Linked DNA regions of Homo sapiens: region 1 is linked to region 2. The links come from fine-mapping of genetic effects on plasma protein levels. A gene starts in region 2. The other region holds a variant in brackets. All regions are shown on one strand. Distances are between the middles of the regions.

Region 1 (8,343 bases), 9.2 kb before region 2:
CTTCAGTTGAAGCCAAGGCACCATTCAGTGACCCATCTGGGTCTGGCCCTTATCTAGTGAGTGGCAGACAAATCCAGAGCTCTGCCACCAAGGGAGACCCCCACAAGCTGGAGTAAAGACCTGACAGAAACTGGTTTACAGGAAATGCTTATGATATGTATTTTGTGAATTTTTTTCCCCTTGAAGAACTTTAAAAATAAGAATCACAAAGAAAAGTTCATTCACCTTGTGTATTTGGGTGGTTCTGGGAGAGGAAAAAAGAGGAGGCACTCTGCTGCAGGTACACACCCAGGGCGTCTGTCTGTCTGGTTAGCCATCCCAAATCCTGGGAAAGTCCAGCTCTGACTTCCTGCCCTCCAAGAGATCCGAATGGAATTCCCTAGGTTCAGGGGCTTTAGTGGCAGCCACTTTGGCCCTTAGCCATCCTTTCTTATCACTCTTGTTTTGAAATTGCTTTGTGTTTTATAACCACTCCCTGGTGTTTCCTAAGATTTTGTTTTGTCAGCATTAAGAAGGCAGCTTTCAAGATGTTGTCATTTGATAATTCAGCTGCCTTCATGCTCTCAGCATTGAAAGGAAGACTATGCTTGCTGGCCCAGAAGGCTCTTCCTATAAGCCTGTAGTCTCACTGTGCAGTGTGTTAAAATTAAGTCTCTTCATGTGTAGAGCAGCCTTTGTTTTTTTTTCTAGGGGAACTGAAACTCCTAAATCTTAAAACACCCTGGGGAAGGAGCTGATTCACGAAGGAGAGCGTTTCAACCGTGGCATTTGCTCTCTGCATTCCAGTTAGCAAATGGGGTAAGGCGTTAGGAATTTATCACCAAATGGAAAGAACATAATGTGAGCTGAAGCCCTTGGGACTGCTTCCAGAGGTCCTGGTGTGGGCGTTCCTCCCAGCAAGGCCAGGTCCATCCCTGTGGAGAGAAGCAGCTGCCTAGACTTGGGCTTAATGGGGGAGCTTCTGCCCTGTTGAGAGCATAGCCTGGGTTTTCATCTTTTATGTTTCTTCAGTGACTATCTACAGGCACCATGACAGTGTTCCCAACAAGGCAGAAATCAGCCTGGTCTCTCCTTCCCTGCTCCTGGTTGACTGCCCGTGACATGACAAAACATTGGCAGTGGTGGCGCAGAGATGCAACTCGAGTGTGAATAAAGTTTAGAAGCATTTGCTTTTGATGGTTGATTCCAGTGGATCATTTTGAGATGCATAAATTAGAATGGGTACTGTCATATATGTCAGACTCAGCTCTGCTTCACTTCCCTTCAGACAGACAGATGAGGCTTTGCCATGCCAGTGGTATGACAAGCAGCTACCAGCTTGGATGGCTGGCTAAGCACTTCCAGTAAAAATGGAGAAAGAAGAGAAAAAGATGGTGGAATCTGTTTCTAGCCACCCCATACCTTTCCCTGAAGGCCACCCCTACATGTAATATACGTATATTGCAAATGAAACAAAACACCATATGAGCAGGGACTCTCCAGGAGAGGCATTTATTGGAAAGATCTGATTGTTGCAACTGTCAGAGTGAGAGAAGAGAAAACTGAAGACAGAGACTGGCAAAGACTTGGAAAAATATTATCCTGGGACAGACCTGTTTGATCCAGCAGAGCCACAGCTGTCTTTAGTGGTCTTTAAATAAACATTAGGTAGAAGAACATTGAAGTTGGTCAAAGTAAGGGCGGAGTATAAGAAATGCAATGTTAAATAATATTCAAGTGGGTTTTTGTCTCTGATTCTTTAGTCTTCCAAATCACGAGTTAATTTTTTTTCTTTTCTTTGTTCTTAGAGATAGGGTCTCACTCTGTCACCGAGGCTGGAATGCAATGGTGCAATCATAGCTCATTGCAGCCTCAAACTCCTGGGCTCATGTGATCTTCCCACCTTCCTGGGACTGCAGGCATGCCACCATGCCCAGCAAATTATTTTTTTAAAATGAGGGTCTCACTATGTTGCCCAGGCTGGTCTTGAGCTCCTGGCCTCAAGCAATCCTCCTGCCTTGGCCTCCTAAAGTGCTGGGATTACAGGTATGAGCCACTGCACTGGGACATGAGTTTAGATTTTTTTCTCGTTGTTGAGACGGAGTCTCGTTCTTTTGCCAGGCTGGAGTGCAGTGGCGTGATCTCACCCACTGCAGTCTCTGCCTCTCGGGTTCAAGCGATTCCCCTGCCTCACCCTACTGAGTAGCTGGGACTACAGGCGTGCACCACCACACCTGGGTAATTTTTTTTATTTTATTAGAGACAGGGTTTCACCATGTTGGCCAGGATGGTCTTGATCTCCTGACCTTGTGATCCGCCTGCCTCGGCCTCCCAATGTGCTGGGATTACAAGCGTGAGCCACAGCACCTGGCCGAGTTTAGAATATTAACAGTAGTTTGTTTGCTCAGTAAAGCCAGTTGTCTAACATACAAACTGCCAGTAGAGAATAAGTCTTCGCTATTCCAGACTTTTTGGAAAACAATCTGGCAGTGTGCATTAAAAGCCTTAAAAGACCGGGTGTGGTGACTCACGCCTGTAATCCCAGCACTTTGGGAGGCTGAGGTGGGCGGATCATGAGGTCAAGAGATCGAGACCATCCTGGCCAACATGGTGAAACCCATCTCTATTAAAAATACAAAAATTGGCATGGTGGCACACGCCTGTAATCCCAGCTACTTGGGAGGCTGAGGCAGGAGAATTGCTTGAACCCAGGAGGTGGAGGTTGCCGTGAGCCAAGATCGCGCCACTGCACTCCAGCCTGGCTACAGAGCGAGACTCCTTCTCAACAAAAAGCCTTAAAAATGTTTGCCCTTTGACCTAGTAATTCTACTTCTGGGCATGTAATCAAAGTAAATAATTTATGATACAAGGGGAGTGGAAACATTAATACAGAGGAGTTTATCCCAGTGTTATTTATACATCCCAAATAATGGCCATAAAGTAACTGCTAGTTAGTGGGGAAACAATGTTCCATGCATTGCTAGATGCCTCTGATGGATTACCTTCTGTCCTCAGCCTCGCCTCTGCCTCTACGGCAGTCAGACCGTAGCTAATAGATTATGTGTTCTGAGGGTTAAGACATGGGCAGCCAATCAGGATTTTACTCAACTTGTCAAAATTAAAAATAATAATAATTGGAGCATAAAAAGCTTATGTCAACCACTATAATGGGAAATTCCAGTCCTTCACCCAGTTTCCGTAAGCCAGTTCACAGATCAAAGTCCATTGACAGGAGGGAGGTTGGTGTCTTTAAATAAGAATCCTGTAATATCACCATCAGCACCTACAATAATAGTTCTCCAGTCTGGAATACCAGCATTGAGGAAAGGTGATTTGAAGCCTTTTGAATCTGGGTTTTGACTTGATGCCTGTATTAGGAGACCTGAAATGCCACCAAGGCTCTCCAGTCAAAGGGGATGGGGGATGGAGGCTAGGTAATAAATGGATGGTACAAGTAAGTCTGGCTCACAATGGTCATTAGGTCCTGGGATAATTTCCTTCCCCAAATGTGTAGGTGGGATGGATGTGGTACAATTGAGATGTCATAAATGGGATGGAATGAAAACCACAATGGTAAGAAGGGTCAAGGTTGGAAACTGCCTCCCTTCCCTGGCCAAGATAATAAATCAGAGACAATATTGGATCTTGGGAGAAATTGCAGAGATTAGGACCAACATCAAAGACTTTAAGGATGCAAGGGTAGTTGTCCCCGCCTCATTGCCATTTATCTTATCTCTGTGGCCCCTGTAAAAGCCAGGTGAATCATGGTAGATGACCACCAAACACACGAGAGAGCTCCAATTTCCACTGCTTTGTTGGATGAAGTATCTTCACTAAGATTAATCAGCACAGCCTCCAATGCTTCGTATGTGGCTATAAGTTAGGAAAATTCTTCCTTAATCCCCATTAACAAGAAGGGTCAAAAGCAGATCTCTTATGTGGAAGGACTGCAAAATGTGTTCAGTGTCTTGTCAGCGGTCTATGTTAATCACCTACTTTTTGTCACAGTGATATCTTCAGGGCCATCGCGCTGATCTATTTATGTTGATAAAATCATGTTTATTAGATCTAGTACATAGGACGTGGAAAGCCGTTGGAAGTCCTAGTAAAAGACACATGCCTGAGAGGGTGGGAAATAAACCCC[A/T]TGAAGATTAAGGAGACCACCACACTGATAATGTTTTTAGGTATCCAGTGGTGTGGGGCATTCTGAGAGATACCCCCTCTAAGGTGGTAGATTTTGAACCTTGCACCCACCCTCATCCCCACTACCCTCACTGAGAAGTACAGCACTTGTTGGGCCTCTGGATTTTGGAGACAAGAATGCTGTACTTGAGAATGCTGTCTCAATGCATTTATTGAGTAATTCACAAACCTACCAGTTGTGAATGGGAGTCCAGAATAAGACAGGACTCTGAAGCCTGTTTAAGCTGCATTACAAGCATCCCTCCTGCTCCATGTGACCCAGAAATTCCAACGGAGCTAGTGCTATCTGGGGCAGGTAAGGGTGCTGTGTAGTTTCTGGCAGGCCCAACAGGAACGTTGTAGCACAGACCCTAGGATTCTGGAGCAAGGCCATGTGGTGGAAAGCTATTCACCTCCAAATGAGTGAGTTTGAAAAGAAGTTTCTGGCTTGCCACTGGGCCCAATTAGAGACTGAATACCCAACCCTGGGACCTCAAGTGACCTGAGCCACCCATCATGCTGGTTATTGTCAGACCCACCAGGTCATAAGTTTGGGTGGGTGCAGCAACAATCCATGCAACATGAAAATGTACATTCAGGATTAGGCCTGAGCAGTTCAGTGGGCACAACCAAGGAATATACCAGGTAGCCCAGATTCGTCTGTCACCCCTGTTCGCCAGTGCCTCTCATCCACACTTATGACCTCATGGGGGAGGGGACTCCTGCAGCCAGCTACTGGAAGAGGAAAACCCCAGGTCTGCCTTGTGGATGAGTTGGTTCTCTATATTGATGTGTGCCCCAAAGGGACTGCTCCTGCATTACAGCCCTGCAGGACAGCAGTGAGAGAACTGAGTGCAGCCAGTGCACTTGGTTGTTAAGTTTGCACAAAGGGATAAGGGTACACGTGGATTCCCGGATAGTAGGGAGTAACTTGGCTAGTTGGACAAGGGCCTGAAAGGAGTAAGATGGGATGATCAGAGAAAAGGGATTTGTATGGACCTGTGGGAATGGGCCAAAAAAAGCGCAGATAGTCGGGAATCGTGTTAATGCCCATCAGAGGACATTTTCCAAGGGAGGTGTTCAACAAGTGTTTTGACTTCAGTTCTGGGTAGGATATGTAGGTCATGGTGGACCACCATTCATGCTGCTGCAGCTAAAAATGCTGAATGCATTTCAAGAGTCATATCATTAAAGATTTTGGGAAGCTCTGGAAGTAAAGAGGATTTCATGGCCTAAAATTCCAGAGAAGGGGGAGACTTTCTGAAGTGAGCAGGCTGTCACTGGCATTTCCTTCCCTGGGGGCATTTGCAGATTCTGGACGTGGAATAAGAATCAGGCTTGGGAACATAGAGGAACTCTACCGGGGAAAGGGAAACCTGCAAAACCTCCAGCAAAGCTGTGTAGGGATAGTGTGATGATTTAGAAACTCAAAGATCCCTAAACACACAGCTGGGTTTATATTTGCCAAATTCTCAGACATGATGGGAAGTCAGGGAGTTTCAGCTAAAGAAGATTGAAATCTCCTGTAGCATTCTATAGGGCTATCTGTTTTTCTCCTCTTGTGTGAACTATTATAGCTGAGGGCATCAGGTAAGTGCATGCCCAGTTTATTATTCCCAAAGTTACAAATCAGGTGATTAAGTTACTGTCCCTTGGAGTGGAAGGAATCGAGGTGTGGAAAGAGGCTATCAAGCTCCTTGACACACTGGGACAGCGTGGTGGCTCAGACCACCCCTCCTCCTTCCCACAACCTTGCAGGTTGCTCAGCTGTCTCCCATGCGAGACCTCAGTTTGCTCCTTGAAAGAATCCCATGTGCAAGCAGGGTAGAGATTATTACCCCACTTTACAGAAGAGGAGTTTGGTCTTGAGTAACTCATCCAAAACGACACAAGTGCCAGGTATCTCAACCAAATTTGGAACTCGGGACTCCATTCTCTTTCCACTGCCACACTACAGAGCTTTAAGGATAAAACAACAAGGACTGTGAGCCCCTTGAGAGCTAAGATTTGGTTGAGTTAGGACCTACCTAACTCAGGGCCCGGTACACAGGGACAGAGCCAATACTTGAATGAATGACAGAGTACTAGGCCAACAAAGTTTTTTTTTTTTTTTTTCTTAGAGACAGGGTCTTGCTCTGTTTTCCAGGCTGGAGTGCAGTAGTATGATCATAGTTCACGGCAGCCTCCATCTCCTGGGCTCAAACAATCCTCCCAGCTCTGCCTGCCAAAGAGTTGGGATTACATGTGTGAGCCCCTGCACCAGGCTGTCTATATGCTCTTACCTTTGAAGGGCATGTGGAAAGTTCTCTGCCTCTGTTATAGCCGGGCCACATTTCTGTTGACATGGGGCCAGTGGAACTAAAAGGAAACATCTGTGCCGGGTGAGGGTTGCGGGTGGGGTAGGGGGCTGGAATGGCTCCATGGTGGGCCAGAAGTTTGCATGTTATTCGGGCTAATATGGGTGGAGTGACCAAAGCCTGTTTTGTATAACTGAGACTTCCAGCAGCTTTGAGAAAAGAAACAACACCACCACACACACAAAAAAACCTTGAAAGCTGAAATATGCCTTTAGAGCTCTCTTCCTCTGATTTTTTTTGCCTGTTTTGTTATTAAGATCATTCTTTGTACAGGGAGATTAGTATGAAAAGACTGGGCTGTGAGAGTGGTGTGTTAGTGAACAGACACTTCCTTGAGGGTTGGGGTCGCTCATGAACATTAATGCAGCATCACTGTCTTGGCTGAAGCCACCCCCACTTGCCGCGCCATGGGCCAGTTGAGGTCTTGTGGACAGTGTCAGCAGATCTTTAATGCAAGGAAGATGAAACTGATATCATCTTCCATATGTAGAAGGTAAAATTGGCTCCACCAGGGCTATCGGTGAATCCATTGCAGGTGGCTGCAATGGCAGTCCACACCTGGCCAGGGAGAGTTGGGGGTGGACAAGAGGATCTGGATATTTAATGGCCATAAACTCAACAGTGGCAACAAATGAGGCCCAGGTGCTACAAAGAGCCCATGAATCTGTGGCTTCCTGAATAGAGGGTCTAGTCTGCTCACAGGAGGCACTTGCCCTGGCCCAGAGGAAGGCCCGTGAAAGCAAGTTTTGTTCTGGGATCTGCACCACAATGAAGACCATAACAAGCACAGTTTTATGCAGTGAGGATTCTCTGGAAGATTGAAGTAGATTGAAATCTGTAGCATCCAGGAACCATATTGTAGAGGATCCATTGAGAAGAAAAAAGGAACGGAACATGGAGAAAGGACAGTCAAAGAAGGACAGGCTGGCCTCTCATGTGACTGCTCCACAGGCCAGCACTAGGAACCATGGGGTGGTTTCCCGGAGGCCAACCTGCCCCACCACAGGGGGATCCTGAGGACAAGCCAAGTGTCTAACGATGAAACTAGTTGCTTTTCAGGTAATGAGCTTCCTGTTCCTGGAAGGGTTTAAGCAACATATGGAGACATCTGACAGGGTCAATGGAAAGGGACATCCCACATCGAGGGGTGGTTAGACTAGATGGCCTCTTCTAACCTGCTTATTAACTCAGAGATCAAGAGTTATTGAACCCCTGCCCTTTTTTTTTTTTTTTAAAGGTAGGGTCTCCCTCTGTCATCCAGGCTGGAGTGGTGCAGTGGTGTGATCATGGCTCACTGCAGCCTCAACCTCCTGAGTTCAAGTGATCCTTCCACCTCAGCCTCCAGAGTACCTGGCTCTACAGGTGCATGCCACCACATCTGGCTTTTTTTAAATTATTATTATTTTGTAGAGATGGGGTCTCCCTATGTTCCCCAGACAGGTCTTGAATGCCCGGCCTCTATTGATCCTCCTGCCTTGGCCTCTCAGAGTGCTGGGATTTTGATTATAAGCATAAGCCACCGCTTCTGGCCAGTTTGCATTTTTTGAGGACCACTGAAGCAATAAAAAAATGATGAAATGCCCAAACCAGGTTACGAAAAATAGAGATGTACTTTAAATGTTTACATTTAATGAAATAGCACTTTTCACACCCACAGATATGACACAGGACAATATTCTATTCACAAGAGAGAATTCATTATTTATTTATTTTACCAATTGCCTTGGGTGATTCTATTTTTGCATTATTACAACTTTTTATTGTGGTAATACACAACATAAAATTTACTATTTTGGGCCGGGCATGGTGGCTCACGCCTGTAATC
Region 2 (7,351 bases):
GGCTCCTCTAAGCTACATATCCAGCTTTATGTCTTCCCCACCCTGTCCTCATTGGCTCGGGATCTGGAATGCAAGGTGCTTTTGCTTGGCTCCAAGACTCTGCTTGTGTGTTTTCCACCTGGAGCCCTGTGCTCATTCCTTCCTCCCCTCAGCTGGCCACACCCTCTGTGTCCCTTCCTCAGCCTGAGGGCCACCTTCCTTCTGCCCTGCCCTGGCTGCATTCGGTGCCCTGTGAGACGCCACCACAGTCCCCATAGCTTCAACCATCAGCCAGCCCTGGAAAACATGGGGCCTCTGGTTGCCTCATGTTTAGAAAGCATACTTCGTTCATTTTCCTACCACTGAAGGGCCAAGATAGAGTTGGGCCAAGGTGAGAAAACCAAGAAAGCAAAGCAGTTAACAAAAATATTAATTTTCTTTTACCATCTGCTACCCACCCAGAGTTCCAGGAACAAGGCCCCTTTTAGGTTATGTAATCATCAGGCTCCAAATTGTCTCCCGAGGGCCCAGCTGTGAATATAAAACCCTTCCCACTCTGAGAATGTGAGAGGTGGAGCCCAGTGTCGTTGAGGGGCCGTGCAAATGCTCTGCTCCGTGCTCAGGGCCCCCACCCTTGGCAGGACTACTGTGCACTGGGCCAGCCCAGCTGGCCTCCTGCTTCCCTGGCCTACTACATAAGAGATCCCTCCCTAAGTCAGACAGGGGAAGGTGGGGTCCCTAGAAGGCAGGGAAAAGCCTGAAGTACATAGTATTGTATTTTCTTTTGGAAGAATCTCAAACTCAGAAAATTTGCAACGACAGTACAAAGAACATTCTCCCCCTGAACTATGTAAGTTGTCAACACAGTACCATATCGCTGTCTAATACTTCAGTATGTGTGTTTCCTACAGACAAAGACACTCTCCTACATAATCACAGCACACCATCAAGTAGGACCATAACAGGGATACCGTCATGCGTTGCTTAACAATGGGAATACGTTCTGAGAAATGCATTGTCAGGCGAGTTCATCGTTGTGCTACCATGACAGAGTGTACTTACACAAACCTAGGTGGCATAGCCTACTACACACCTAGGCTCTCAGGTATGGTATGTTGCTCCTAGGCTACAAACCTGTACAGCACGTGACTGCACTGAATACTGTAGGCAGTTGTAACATAATGGTAAGTATTTGTGTATCTCAACATAGAAAAAGTGGAGTAAAAATATGGTATAAAACAGCAGTCCCCAACCTTTTTGGCACCAGGGACTGGTTTCATGGAAGACAATTTTCCCACGGATGCGGGGTTGGGGTGATGGTTTCAGGATGAAACTGTTCCACCTCAGATCATTGGGCGTTAGATTCTCATAAGGAGTGTGCAACCTAGACCTTCTCATGCACAGTTCACAATAGGGCTTGTGCTCCCATGAGAATGTAATGCTGCTGCTGACCTGACAGGAGGCGGAGCTCAGGTGGTAATGCTCGCCTACCCACCACTCACCTCCTGCTGATGGGCCTAGTTGCTAACAGGCCACGGACCAGTACTGTGGACCAGTACTGGTCCATAGCCTGGAGGTTGGGGACTCCTGATATAAAAGATAAAGAAAATGATACACTGGTATAGGGCACTTACCATGAATGGAGCTTGCAGGACTGGAAGTTGCTCTGAGTGAGTCAGTGAGTGGTGAGTGAACGTGGACATTACTGTACACTACTCTGGACTCTATAAAACACTGCACACATAAGCTGCATTACATTTTTTTAAAAAATGGTTTTCTTTTTTAATAATAAATTAACCTGAGCTTACCATAACTTTTTTTACTTTGTAAACTTTTGAACTCATTTAACTTTTTTACTTTTATAACATTTAGCTTAAAACACAAACACATTGAACAGTTGTACAAAATTATTTTCTCTATATCCTTATTCTATAGGCTTTTTCTAGTTATTATTACTTTTTTACTTTTTAAACTTTTTGTTAAAAACTAAGACACAAACGCACATTAGCCCATGCCTACACAGGGTCAGGATTATCAGTGTCACTGTCTTCCACCTCCACCTCTTGTCTCAGTGGGAGGTCTTCAGGGACAGTCACACACATGGAGCTATCATATCCTATGATAACAGTGCCTTCTTCTGGAAAACCTCCTGATGGACCCACCTTAGGCTGTTTCACAGTTAACTTTTTTAAAAAAAAAGTAGAAAGAGTACACTCTAAAATAATGATAAAAAGTATAGCACAGTAAATACATAAACCAGTGACACGGTCATTTATTATCATCGTATTAGTTCATTCTCGCACTGCTATAAAGAACTGCCCAAGAATGGGTAATTTAGAAAGGAAAGAGGTTTAATTGACTCACAGTTCTGCATGGCTGGGGAGGCCTCAGGAAACTAATAATCATGGTGGAAGGCAAAGGAGAAGCAGACACCTTCTTCACATGGCAGCAGGACAGAGTGAGTACAAGCAGGGGAAATGCCAGATGCTTATAAAACCATCAGATCTCATGAGACTCACTATCACGAGAACAGCATGGGAGAAACTTGCCCCCATGGTTCAATGACCTCCACCTGGTCTTTCCCATGACACATGGGGATTATGAGGATTACAATTCAAGGTGAGATTTTGGGTGGGGACACAGCCAAGCCATATCATTCCACCCCGGCCCCTCCCAAATCTCATGCTCTCACATTTCAAAGCACAATCATGTGGGGCAGAATGATATGGTTTGACTATGTTCTCACCCAAATTCTTATCTTGAATTGTAATCCTCATAATGCCCATGTGTCAAGGGAGAGACCAGGTGGAGGTCATTGAACGATGGGGGTGGTTTCCCCCATGCTGTCCTTGTGATAGTGAGTTCTCATGAGATCTTATGGTTTTATAAGTGTTTGGCAGTTCCTCCTGCATTCATTGTACCTCCTGCCTCCTTGCGAAGAAGGTGTTTGTTTCCCCTTCACCTTCTGCCACAATTGTAAATTTCCTGAGGCCTCCCCAGCCGTGTGGAACTGTAAATCAATTAAACCTCTTTCCTTTCTAAATTACCCAGTCTTGGGCAGTTCTTTAGAGTAGTGTGAAAACGGACTAACAAAATCAAGTATTATGTGCTAACATGACCTTATATGCTCTACTTCGATATGACTGGCAGTAAATTTGTTTACACCAGCATCACCACAAACTTGGGAATAATGAGTTGCACTATGACTTTACAACCCTTTGTGACATCACTAGGTGTTAGGAATTTTTCTGCCCCATTATAATCTTATGGAAGCATATCACATATGTGGCCTGTTGTTGACTGAACTGTCATGATGCAGCATGTGACAACACATCACTGCCGTGTGCTCCTCAGACCCCATCAGATTTCTCTGGTTGTCCCAACTGCATCCTTGAGAATGGAGGGTCCAGTCCAGAATCACATATTGCATTTAGTTCTGTGTCTTCAGTCTCCTTCAGCCTGAAACACTTCCTCAGCCAGGAGCTTTGAAAATTACTGGCAGTCATTTTGCAGAATGCTCCTCCATTTGGGATTGTCTGATGTCTCTCTGGCCGGAGTCCTATGGAGTGATGCCACATTCTCACTGCAGCCCCCCAGGTGCTGCAAGCTTTTTATTGGCCCTGTTGATGTTTACTTTGGTCACAGATGAGGTGATGTCTGCCAGCCTTCTTCACCATGAAGTTGCTCTTTTTCTCTCTGGAATGGATAAGTGTTTTGTGGGCAGATACTTTGAGGCTATGTAAACATCCCATTGAAGAACATCAGACTTTCAATGCGTTCCCTTACTTACTTATATCTGTGTGCACTGGTGGTTTCCCATCTGTTACTGTCACTATGTTGGTGCTCAAATTGTCCCTGATTCTGACCACTGAAGGCTCCTTCAAGCTGGCTCTGTGTCCTACTGACGTGTTCCCATTATTCATTAAGCACTTCCTTGTTTTCTGGCAAAACAACAAGTTCCGGGCTCATTTTCTGCACCCCACTCCTACTTCCCAGTGCTAGAATCAGCCGTTTCTGCAAGGTGCTCTGGTTCCTTTAGTGGAAAGTCATATTCAGAAGCCAGTATTCAGGTGCTAGGAGTGCTCCAGGCTATGCGGGGCTGGCTGCTCCAGGCCCCCCAGTGACTGTGGGGACTAGACACACACACATTTCCATCTATATATATGGACTTATCTTTATGTATTCAAGGCCACAAGGGTACACTGATCATTCCGATTTTAATCCCACACAACAGGATTCATTCCAGTTTTCTCTCCATATACATAACTTCCTTCTCTGACAATAGGAAACCTAACTCCCACTGTCTTCAGTAGATTTATTTGATCAGTATCCCTGTGTGTAACCAATCTCCCGTCTCTGCCACCAGCCTCTCTCCCACATGGATCCCCTCCTTGCCTCACTTGGACTCCAGCACTCCAGGCAGGGCCTTTGCTTTCCCCAGGATGCTCCCTCCACCCTGCTGGGCTCCCACACCCCACACCAGTCCACCCCTTGAGGGCACATTCTCCCCACATCCTCTCTGGTACCTCTGGGGCACGATGGCTTCTCCCTCCGCCACCTTTGCTATGCCCCACTTTGTGGCTTTAGGACAGGACTCAGGAGAAAGGGAAGACAAGAAGGGAAGGAATCCCTTGGATTTTTTAACCAAAAAATGCATCAAGTACATGGAGACAGAGCCACAAAATAATCATAACAAATATTCTAAACCAATCAGACAGCCAGCCCCAGATCACCCTATAAGGGGGCATTGCTACCCCGTGACAGCTGGGTAGCCTGGGCAAATTCCCTAACCTCACCGAGCCTCAATTTCCTCAATGGTAAAATGGGGAAAGGACAGTGCTTCCCTCGTGGTTTGGGTGTGAAGCTTCTGTGAGTTAATGTTAGTGAACAGCCAGCCTCAGCCCCTACCCAAGGTAGCTGCTCCGCAGATGTGATGACAACCACCGTGTGTTTCTCAGAATCCTAGGAAATAAGGGCTTCTTTCTAGAAGGCAGGGCCAGGATGCTGCGTGGGTGTTCCCTGGCAGAGAGGCTCTGTGGCCCTCAGGACTTCATCCTTCTGCAGGCTTGTGTGTTTGTTTTATTTTTTTGGCACGCCTGCAGCCAAGTTGGGGAGGGTTTCCTGGACAGAGGTCCTTTGGCTGCTGCCTTAAGACGTGCAGCCTGGGCCGTGGCTGTCACTGCGTTCGGACCCAGACCCGCTGCAGGCAGCAGCAGCCCCCGCCCGCGCAGCAGCATGGAGCTCTGGGGGGCCTACCTCCTCCTCTGCCTCTTCTCCCTCCTGACCCAGGTCACCACCGAGCCACCAACCCAGAAGCCCAAGAAGATTGTAAATGCCAAGAAAGGTAAGGAGGGGGACAGAGCCCTGTGCCATCTTCCAGGGAGCAGGTCCCCCTCTCCTTAGTGTGTCCTCATGCTCCTTTCCTTCATTTTCCTCCTTTTGAGTCATCTAGGGAACTTGAGTAAAGTGGGCTTTGGGGCTTGGGGGAGTTCTCTCATAGCAGAGTTGGTTGTCAGAATCATAAGAATCCCTGACCCTTAGAGTTGGGAAGAACCTTCCAGATCATCCAAACTGATCTTTGCTCTTCTCTCCTCCCCTCATCCCCAATATTTTAAAGAAACCAAACCTTTGGCCTGGGAGTCTGGCAGCGCTCAGCCCTTACCAGGGAGAGCTGCACAGGCTGGGCTTTGGAGTCTTCCAACCTGTTTTCTCAACTGTAAAATGGGGACAGTGGTATTTGTTCAAAGACTTCTCATGAAGATTTTATGATACAAAATATATAAAGGCACCTCACTTGTTGCTTGATGCACAGGGAAAAGAAAAAGAAGAAGAAATGAATTCTCATTTCTGTAGCATATCACAGCCTTCAGGAAATAAATGTAACTCAGACTAGTCCACCAGAAGCAGCTTTGCTCTGCTTTGTAGCCTCTGGGGATTGGGGTGTCCCTCGGTTGCTTTGGCTACAGCAAGACTTGCCCTTGCAGCCCCGCCTGCAGTGAGGTCACCCCAGGCTGTGTTGAGACAACATCAGTGGAATGTCATGGCAATGGACGGGGCTGTCACCCCCCCAGGGAGCAGAGGCTAGAAGAGAGTCCAAGGGGATGAGGGTGGGGACTGAGGCAGAGAAACAAGCAGCTAGGACCAAGGGCACAGAAAAGGAAAGAAGGGGCTGTGGGGGCCTCCCTTAGGCCCTCCCGGGGCTCTTCATAAATGGACAGTTGCCCACTGGCCAGGAACTAGTGCAGTGCATAAAGGGACATCGGGGCCATGGGGCCTCACAACACTGTGACAAAGAATGGGGCAAATCTGGCTGCTGATAAAAAAATCATCTTCAAGATTCAGTTTACAAAGTGAAAAAAGAAACATTCAAAAGAGAATGAGTATGATGCTGACATTTGCTTTGAAAAAGGGATTTATATAATAATACATTTTTACTTGTATGTGCATAAGTTCTTTCTGGAAGGATCCACAAGAGTGAGTAACAGTGATTACCTCTGGGAAGAAAAACCAGGGGCTGGGCGCAGTCTCAACTGGGAAAGAAACCAGCTTTTTGAACTGTTTGGATTTTAAAAAATTATGTGTGTATATTACCTTCCACAAAATGTTCATTTAAAAAGAGAAGACAATACCGTGCATAGTTACGTCTATGAGCATTAGCCAAAATCGCCACCAAGGGAGAGCCTTTGTAAAAGATGCAGCTCCAAAGGCAAATCATAGAATTTTTGAATGTGGAAAACCATCGCCAGCTTCTCAAGTTTACCAAAGATTCAGTATTAATATAATTATGTAAATCTTTTTAAACTCATGTTAAAAAAAAAAGGGTCAGAGCACGTGATGCCTTGGTTCTCTCCAGCTGTCACACTTGAACCCTGGCCCTATGTGGTCTCCATAGAAGGGGCCCCTGGAGTTCCAGGGCTACAGGCCAACAGAACAGCCACCCAGGCCCTGCCTCTCGCTGAAACCCATGGCAGTCTCCCGCCCACCAACATGGCAGGCACTTATAGAGCTCTTTCTCCACGTAGGCACCAGTCTATATGCTGGACACACAGCAGAGAAACACCGTCTCTGCTCTTAAGACATGAACCATGGTGGTTCTCACTCAGGCATCAACATCATCTGGGAGATACATTAGAATCCAGGTGCCTTGGCCAGGCGTGGTGGCTCAAGCCTGTAATCTCAGCACTTTAGGAGGCCAAGGTGGGAGGATCGCTTGAGGCCAGGAGTTCAAGACAAGTCTGGCCAACATGGTGAAACCCTGTCTCTACTAAAAATACAAAAATTAGCTGAGTGTGATGGTGTACACGTGTAGTCCCAGCTACTCAGGAGGCTGAGGCAGGAGAATTGCTTGAACCTGGGAGGTGGAGGTTGCAAT

Which allele goes with the higher level. Positions count from the first base shown, and alleles are read on the strand shown. Strength reflects both the effect of a copy and how common the allele is.
With allele A in place of T in region 1, the plasma level of the protein whose gene starts at base 5,155 in region 2 is lower (moderate association).

Evidence for each region. PIP is the chance, under the fine-mapping model, that this variant and not a neighbour inherited with it causes the effect. The UK Biobank Pharma Proteomics Project read protein levels with antibody pairs (Olink). The fine-mapping took linkage between variants from a reference panel, not from the people measured, so its PIPs are less certain.
Region 1: its variant is fine-mapped to the plasma level of the CLEC3B protein (UK Biobank, PIP 0.95).

What each region holds. Positions count from the first base shown.
Region 1 is chr3:45,011,493-45,019,835 of GRCh38, forward strand. It overlaps a transcript of EXOSC7 not described here. Among named protein-coding and RNA genes, the nearest start is that of CLEC3B, 11 kb to the right of the region's middle. RefSeq lists an enhancer at 602-721. The variant A/T (reference allele first, on the strand shown) is at 4,124.
Region 2 is chr3:45,021,149-45,028,499 of GRCh38, forward strand. CLEC3B (C-type lectin domain family 3 member B) reads left to right here and starts at 5,155. Exons shown (of 3, transcript NM_003278.3): 1 at 5,155-5,323. The coding sequence starts at 5,215. RefSeq lists enhancers at 5,535-6,036, 6,037-6,536.